Regions from separate parts of the Homo sapiens genome. Here region 2 is linked to region 1. The links come from fine-mapping of genetic effects on gene expression. A gene starts in region 1. The other region holds a variant in brackets. All regions are shown on one strand. Distances are from middle to middle.

Region 1 (4,388 bases):
AGGCTGAGGCAGGAGAATCGCTTGAACCTGGGAGGTGGAGGTTGCAGTGAGCCAAGATTGGGCCATTGCAACACAGAGGTTGGGGTAACACAGCAAGACCCTGTCTCAAAAAAATAAAATAAAAATAAAAAATAAAGGTAAAGAGACTAGTTGGGAGGCTATTTGTAATAAACCAGGATTTGTCTGCCTCAACACTACACTACTGACATTTTGCATCAGACAATTATTTGTTGTGGGAGGGTTGTCCTTAGTATTGTAGAATGTTTAGTAGTGTCTCTAGTGTCTGTTTACTAGATGTTAGACAACCCCTAGCCCCCTATATGACATTGCCAAATGTCCCTATGGAGACAATATCACCCCCAGTTGATAACTGTGTGTGTAACAGACCATGTGAGAAATAAAAAAGGGTGGATGTTAGACATGGGTAAGGACAAAATCTAAAAGCCTTGGCAAGTGTTTGGATAGGCTTGCAACTGAGAAAGAGGGAGTGTTGAAAGCTCAAACAGAGAAAGGTCCTAGAGGCCATGTACTGTAGTCTAATATGCTTATCATTGCTTGAAACATTGTAAACCCTCTTGGAAGGCAGTTTGGTAAAACCTATTAATAATCACAAAAAGTATCTTACTTTTTGACCCAGCACTTTTATTTCTGGGAGTTTATCTTAAATGATTCAAATGAAGACAAGGAATCTTTATGTACAAAGCAATTAGTTGCATGACAGACAGTGACCACGTTCTCAAAAATTACACCCGCATGCCACCACATTGCCTGTTAAATTAGAAGCCGATTTAAGATCCTGAGTTTAAGAGCCAAAGAAGTTGTAGCTAAAGAAACAAAATCCCAGAGGGGCAGGAAGGGCAGATATCAAGAATGCAAGTAGAGAAATTCTTAACTTATTTTTCAGAGAGAGGACAATGAATTTGAGAATTTGTATTGGAGAAAAGAGGGAGAGAAGTTAGGTGGAGGAACTCCTAGATAAGGCTTCAATCAGTGAATTCATCTGCAGAGCAGAAGTTTCTGCGGAACTCAAACTGCCTGGGGGCATTCCTTGAAAAGAAGAATTCTGCACTTTTTGGTGGGAACCTGCCGGTGGAACATCCTGTTTAGAAATGAGGACATCCAAGGAACACTGCAATGTGCAGAGACTAGAAGGAAAAAACAGTCAAGTAGCCATTTCTCCTGGGGAGTCTCTAGTAACTTGATTTTGTGCTTCTTCTTGTTTTTTGAGACAAGAGTCTCACTCTGTCGCCCAGGCTGGAGTGCAATGGTACGATCTCGGCTCACTGCAACCTCCACCTCCCGAGTTCAAGCAATTCTCCTGTCTCAGCCTCCCGAGTAGCTGGGACTACAGGTGCAAGTCACCACACCTGGCTAATTTTTGTAATTTTTAAATTATTATTTATTTTTATTTTTTTGAGGCGGAGTCTCGCTCTGTCGCCCAGGCTGGAGTGCAGTGGCGCCATCTCGGCTCACTGCAAGCTCTGCCTCCCGGGTTCACGCCATCCTCCTGCCTCAGCCTCCCGAGTAGCCGGGACTACAGGCGCCCAGCACCACGTCCGGCTAGTTTTTTGTATTTTTCTTTTTTAGTAGAGACGGGGTTTCACCGTGTTAGCCAGGATGGTCTCGATCTCCTGACCTCGTGATCCGCCCGCCTCGGCCTCCCAAAGTGCTGGGATTACAGGCGGAGCCACCGCGCCCGGCCAATTTTTGTAGTTTTAGTACAGACGGGGTTTCACCATACTGGTCAGGCTGGTCTCGAACTCCTGACCTCAGGTGATCCACACACCTCGGCCTCCGAAAGTGCTAGGATTACAGTCGTGAACCACCGCGCTTGGCCGCAACTTGATTTTTAAATTGCTCTCTGAGTGTAGATTCCTTGTTTGTTTGGCAAGGGTTCTTGCCGCTGCCGCTACAGCTTGAAGCCAAACATTTAATGAAAGAGAGCGGGAGGGGCCGAATAGAAGAATGATGGGCGTGGCCAACCCCGAGGTGGCTGGAGGCCGCGCCCCCTTCCCAGAGTGCACCGCAGCCGCTGCATTCAGGAACCGCTTTAGCTTCGCCCCCGGCCGGCCGGGCGGGGAAGACTGGTGTGGTCTGGCCATGGATGGGCTCCAGGCCAGTGCAGGGCCGTTGAGGCGCGGGCGGCCGAAGCGCCGGCGCAAGCCCCAGCCACACAGCGGGTCGGTCCTGGCCCTGCCCTTGAGGTCCAGGAAGATACGAAAGCAGCTGCGAAGTGTTGTATCCCGCATGGCAGCGCTGAGGACGCAGACGCTGCCTAGCGAGAACTCGGAGGAATCGAGGGTGGAGTCGACGGCCGACGACCTGGGGGACGCGCTACCCGGTGGGGCGGCGGTGGCGGCCGTCCCGGACGCAGCCCGGCGAGAGCCATACGGCCACCTGGGGCCCGCAGAGCTGCTGGAGGCCTCGCCCGCCGCGCGCTCCCTGCAGACCCCGTCGGCGCGCCTGGTGCCCGCTTCCGCGCCGCCCGCGCGCCTGGTGGAGGTGCCCGCCGCGCCGGTCCGGGTGGTGGAGACCTCGGCCCTGCTGTGCACCGCGCAACACTTAGCGGCCGTCCAGTCGTCCGGGGCCCCTGCGACGGCGTCGGGGCCGCAGGTGGATAACACGGGTGGGGAGCCGGCCTGGGACTCCCCGCTGCGGCGCGTCTTGGCCGAGCTGAACCGCATCCCCAGCAGCCGGCGGCGAGCGGCCCGCCTCTTTGAGTGGCTCATCGCGCCCATGCCGCCAGATCACTTTTACCGGCGCCTATGGGAGCGCGAGGCGGTGCTGGTGCGGCGGCAGGACCACACCTACTACCAGGGACTTTTCTCTACCGCTGACCTGGATTCGATGCTGCGCAACGAGGAGGTGCAGTTCGGCCAGCATTTGGACGCCGCTCGCTACATCAACGGACGACGCGAGACCCTGAACCCACCCGGCCGCGCGCTGCCCGCCGCCGCGTGGTCCCTGTACCAGGCCGGCTGCTCCCTGCGTCTCCTCTGTCCGCAGGCTTTCTCTACTACTGTGTGGCAGTTTTTGGCTGTGCTTCAAGAGCAGTTTGGAAGCATGGCAGGCTCCAACGTTTACCTCACGCCCCCTAACTCGCAGGGCTTTGCCCCCCACTACGACGACATCGAGGCCTTCGTGCTGCAGCTGGAAGGTAGGAAACTCTGGCGTGTATACCGACCCCGAGTCCCAACCGAGGAACTGGCTCTGACATCCAGCCCCAACTTCAGTCAGGACGACCTCGGTGAGCCGGTGCTGCAGACCGTGCTGGAACCTGGAGATTTGCTGTATTTTCCTCGGGGCTTCATTCACCAAGCTGAATGCCAGGATGGAGTCCACTCTCTGCACCTCACCTTGTCCACGTACCAGCGCAATACCTGGGGTGACTTCTTAGAGGCCATACTGCCTCTGGCAGTGCAGGCTGCAATGGAAGAAAATGTGGAGTTTCGGAGGGGTCTGCCCCGAGACTTCATGGATTACATGGGGGCCCAGCATTCAGATTCTAAGGATCCGCGAAGAACCGCTTTCATGGAGAAGGTGCGGGTCTTGGTTGCCCGCCTGGGACACTTTGCTCCTGTTGATGCTGTGGCCGACCAGCGAGCCAAAGACTTCATTCACGATTCTCTGCCCCCTGTTTTGACTGATAGGGAGAGGGCACTAAGTGTTTACGGGCTTCCAATTCGCTGGGAGGCTGGAGAACCTGTAAACGTGGGGGCCCAGTTGACAACAGAAACAGAAGTCCATATGCTTCAGGATGGGATAGCTCGGCTGGTGGGTGAGGGGGGCCATTTGTTTCTCTATTACACAGTGGAAAACTCCCGTGTGTATCATCTGGAAGAACCCAAGTGCTTGGAAATATACCCCCAGCAAGCTGATGCCATGGAACTGTTGCTTGGTTCTTATCCAGAGTTTGTGAGAGTGGGGGACCTGCCCTGTGACAGTGTGGAGGACCAGCTGTCCTTGGCAACCACGTTGTATGATAAGGGGCTGCTGCTCACTAAGATGCCTCTAGCCCTAAATTAGTTTCTTGTTGATTGCTGGAAACAAGGCAGTAGTGATTCTCCGCTGCCACTGCTACCTTTTTTTTTTTTTTTTCCTTAAACTCACGTTCTTACCTTGATAAGCATCAGTGTGCTCACATTTACCTTTATCACTGCTTCAGTGTCACAAACCTCGGAAGGTCTTCTAGGAAGAACCATCTCATCTAGGTACAAAAGGAAAAGGAGAAGTTGGAGGTGGAAAAAAAACCCTTGATCCGTGATCATTTCAGAGCACCAACTTCATCACCTTCAGGCTTCAGTGTACTGGGTAACACTGACCATGTCGTTCTGCTTGAGACAGATATTAGATTTTTTTTGGAATTTGGATCTTTCATCTGAGTTCTT
Region 2 (4,388 bases), 20 kb before region 1:
ATACTTGGAGATTCCCAAATGATCACCCCAATTGTGGCTCTTCATCTCCAAACACTTAGCCTTTTTTTTTTTTTTTAAAGGAATGTGATGTGCTTAAACCAGATCTTTTTTCTTTCTATTTGGCAGGTACATAGGCACATGACCCTAGTATTTTCCTTCTCTATTTATTCCCTTCTATACTTTACCACAAATACTTCCACTTGACTCCCTCTTCTGGTCTCTGTTCTATGAACCATCTAGATTATCATTCCAAATGAATACATTTGTGTTTGAGCCCTTAAATGCAAGAATATTTCCCTTCCTGGTCTCTCCAAAGCTAACAGGCTAACTAGACTCAGAACAGGACTTTAATCTAAGCTGGCAATAAGTGCTTACCTGTCCTGAATGACCTAAGCTGCAATCATCCTGGGTCACAATCATCAGAGGAACAGATATTATTTTTCTCCTATTGCACGAAGTGGACAAAGGTTGTCTAGATGGTGCAGAATGGATCTCGATAAAGCCAGAGCTCCTTGTGAAATAAGAAAAATCTCAAGAATGGGCATGTGACTGCTAAGCAAGCTCTGTGGGAGAGCTCAACCTATAATATTACAAGTGGCATGCGTAAGATCAACATGAACTCATCTCTCAAATCCCCAAATCTTAGGTTTCAATGTCTCTTACAAAGTTCCAGGAGAGTTAAGCTTAGGACCAATATAAAGGAAGACTACTCCAAACTGTAGGTAGTAAATGCATGGCACTCATTACCCAGGGAGGGAATACAATCAGAATACAGAAAAAAAATCAGGGCAACATTTATGAATTGCAGAGCCATATATGAGTAAAACTGGATGGATCTTGAACTACTCATTTTCAACCCTAGTCCTATGTGAAAGTCTCATGTCTCTCTCCTAGGTCCTAGTATTCCAACTCAGTAGGTTGGAGTGGGGTCTGTATATAGTTGCAAAGCTCCCCCAGGTGATTCTGATTTATAACCAGGTTTGAGGACCACTACTTGAATAACTTGAATAACCTTTAACCTGCTGGATAGGTCTGACCCAGCCTGGTCATCCTTACGGTCCTAATTGTCAAACTGCTTGGTTGATGAATGACAACTCAAACAGATACAGCTGTATACCTGCAACATAAGAACAAACTCCAGAGCAGTCATTAGACCCTGAATCTACAGATCAAATCAAGCAGTATAATAATGCTCTGGTCCCTGGCTCATTTAGAGTCTTCTCCAAGATCTCTAAGTCTTTCCCACCTTAGGGATGAATCAGCGGAGGCACTTAAAACAAGGTACTACTTTTGGAAGGAAATATTCAGATTTGCTTATAAGAATAAGATGCAGACTTCTTTTTTCTTTTCTTCTCTTTTTTTTTTTTTTTTGAGATGGAATCTCTCTTTGTTCCCCAGGCTGGAGTGCAATGGCATGATCTCGGCTCACTGCAGTCTCCACCTCCTGGGTTCAAGCGATTTTCCTGCCTCAGCCTCCTGAGTAGCTGAGATTACAGGCAGGCACCACCACGCCCAGCTAATTTTTGTACTTTTAGCAGAAATGGGGTTTCCCCATATTGACCAGGCTGGTCTCGAACTCCTGACCTCAAGTGATCCACCCACCTCAGGCTCCCATATTGCTGGGATTATAGGCATGAGCCGCCGCGCCTAGGCAGATGCAGGCTTCTTTACATATTTCTGTCACGGCTCTTTTTGCACAATGTTTAACACAGTACTAGGAATTCGTTTATTCAGTAAACATTTATTGATTAAAAATTAGTTACATACCCAATGCCAATAGTTTGTTGCTGAGGATATAAATAATTAAATAAGGCAGTGATAAAACAGACCAGATGTGATCTCTAGCTTCTTAGTTACCTAATAAGCTCTCAAAAATATTCTTTTATCATAGTGGCTGGATACAGTGTAAAACTCTACCTAAGGGTCATCCTACCCTCT[T/C]AGGAACACAACATTTAAGTTCTTTCGAAGACCGAGCTACCCTGGGGCCAAGAACAACTATAAAAAAAGTGCCTACCTTTTCTTCTCAAATGTACCTACAAGTGAAGGTTAAAAATGAACTTCTGGCTGGGCACGTTGGCTCACGCCAGTAATCCCAGCACTTTGGGAGGCCAAGGCAGGCAGATCCTGAGGTCAGGAGTTCAAGACCGGCCTGAGCAACATGGAGGAAACCCCCGTCTCTACTAAAAATACAAAATTAGCCGGGCGTGCTGGTGCATGCCTGTAATCCTAGCTACTCAGGAGGCTGAGGCAGGAGAATCGCTTGAACCCAGGAGGCAGAGGTTGCAGTGAGCCAAGATTGCGCCATTGCACTCCAGCCTGGGCAACAAGATCGAAACTCTGTCTCAAGAAAAAAAAAAAAAGAACATCTGGAGAATGAGAACTATGCTATATTCATCTTTGAATTTCCAGTACCAGGTACAGTACCTTGCACATAGTAAGTGTTCAGTGTTTTAAATTTTTTTTTTTTTTTTTTGGAGACAGAGTCCCACTCTGTCACAGGCTGGAGTGCAGTGGCGCGATCTCAGCTCACTGCAACTTCTGCCTCCCAGGTTCAAGCAATTCTCTTGCCTCAGCCTCCCGAGTAGCTGGGGCTACAGGCATCTGCCACCACACCCGGCTAATTTTTTGTATTTTAGTAGAGATGGGGTTTCACCATGTTGCCCAGGCTGGTCTCAAACTTCTGATCTCAGGCAATCCACCTGCCTCGGCCTCCCAAAGTGCTAGGATTACAGGCGTGAGCCACCGCGCCTGGCCCAGTGTTTTTAAATTTTAATTAATTAATTAATTTTGAGACAGGGTCTGGCTCTGTCACCCACGCTGGAGTGCAGTGGCCCCATCTCGGCTCACTGTAACCTCTGCCTCCTGAGCTCAAGTGATCCTCCCACCTCAGCCTCTGAGTAGCTGGGACTGCAGGCATGTGCCATCATGCCTGGCTAATTTTTGTATTTTTTTTTTTTTTTGGTAGAGATGGAGTCTCACTATGTTGCCTAGGCTGGTCTTGATCCTCCCACCTCGGCCTCCCAAAGTGAAGTAATTGCAGGCATGAGCCACCGCACCCAGCCTGTTCAGTGTTTTTGAATGAGTGAATGAATGAATGAAGCTGGAATCCCAGTTCTGCCACTAACTGTGTATCTTTGTACAAGTCACAGATTATTTGTAACCCTTTTTTCATGACTGGGATAACAACTACCTTGCTTATTTGTTGTTATGTGACTGGAGGTCATGTGTTCTAAGAATCACTGGCAGCTGGGCATGGTGGCCTGTAATCCCAACATTTTGGGAGGCTGAGATGGGAGGATCACTTGAGCCCACAAGTTTGAGACCAGCCTGGGAAACAGAGGGAGACCTCATCTCCACAAAAAAATTAAAAACTAGCTGGGTGCGGTGAGCGCGTGCCTATAGTCCCAGCTACTGGGAAGGCTGAGGAAAGAGGATCATTTTTGAGCCCAGGAAGTCAAGCCTACAGTGAGCCATGATTGCACCACTGCACTCCAACCTGGGCGACAGAGTGAGACCCTGTCTCAAAAAAAAAAGAAAGAAAATTGGCACTCTGCCTGGCATTCAGCAGGTGCTCAACAAATGGTTGTGGTGATGCTGTATGGTTGTTACTCTGAGAACGGAGAAGCAGAAGCTTCCAAGAACCAACTTGTATGGTCAAAGTGACATCTAGTGGTAAAATTTTAGAACACACACCAAAAGCACAGTCAATTGCTGGTTTGAAATTTAAATTGAGGAATGACTAGGAACTAACAGGGCACCTGATTTACATAAGTACAGTAACATTATTTAATTCTCACCAGTGATTTTTTTTTTTTTTTGAAACGGAGTCTCACTCTATCGTCCAGGCTGGAGTACAGTGGCGCGATCTTGGCTCACTGCAACCTCCGCCTCCCAGGTTCAAGCAATTCTCCTGCCTCAGCCTCCCATGTAGCTGGGACTACAGATGCTGGCCACCACGCACGGCTAATTTTTGTATTTTTAGTAGAGATGGGGGTTTCACCATGTTGATCAGGCTGGTCTCGAACTCCCGACCTTAGGTGATCCTCCTGCCTCAGCCTCCCAAAGTTCTAGGATTACAGGCGTGAGCGACCGCACCTGGCTTCACGAGTGATTTTCAATCCTGGATGCAGATTAGAATGACGTGTGAAGCTTTAAAAATCTACTGGTGTCTGGATCTCACCCTTGGAGACACCAATTTAACTTGCAGGAGGTGTGACTCAGGCTGTCACATTTTTAAACTGCGATTTTAACATGCAGCCTGGTTGGGAACCACATGCAAGAGACCCATGAGATAGTCTTCTTCTCGTTTTACAAATGATGAAAGTAAAAGTCAGAAGGATAAAGTAATTTTCACAAAGTCACACATTTATTATTAGCAGTAGGTTATT

What was found.
Region 2: its variant is fine-mapped to the expression of RIOX1 in tibial nerve (GTEx, PIP above 0.99).

The regions. Positions count from the first base shown.
Region 1 is chr14:73,488,918-73,493,305 of GRCh38, forward strand. It overlaps RIOX1 (ribosomal oxygenase 1), which reads left to right and starts at 2,016. Exons shown (of 1, transcript NM_024644.5): 1 at 2,016-4,388. The coding sequence starts at 2,101. The coding sequence ends at 4,026. It overlaps HEATR4 (HEAT repeat containing 4), which reads right to left. Exons shown (of 18, transcript NM_001220484.1): 17 at 4,149-4,207. It also overlaps a transcript of ACOT1 not described here. RefSeq lists enhancers at 1,096-2,001, 1,683-1,792, 2,981-3,481 and a silencer at 2,343-2,632.
Region 2 is chr14:73,468,622-73,473,009 of GRCh38, forward strand. No RefSeq gene overlaps it. Among named protein-coding and RNA genes, the nearest start is that of NUMB, 12 kb to the left of the region's middle. The variant T/C (reference allele first, on the strand shown) is at 1,939.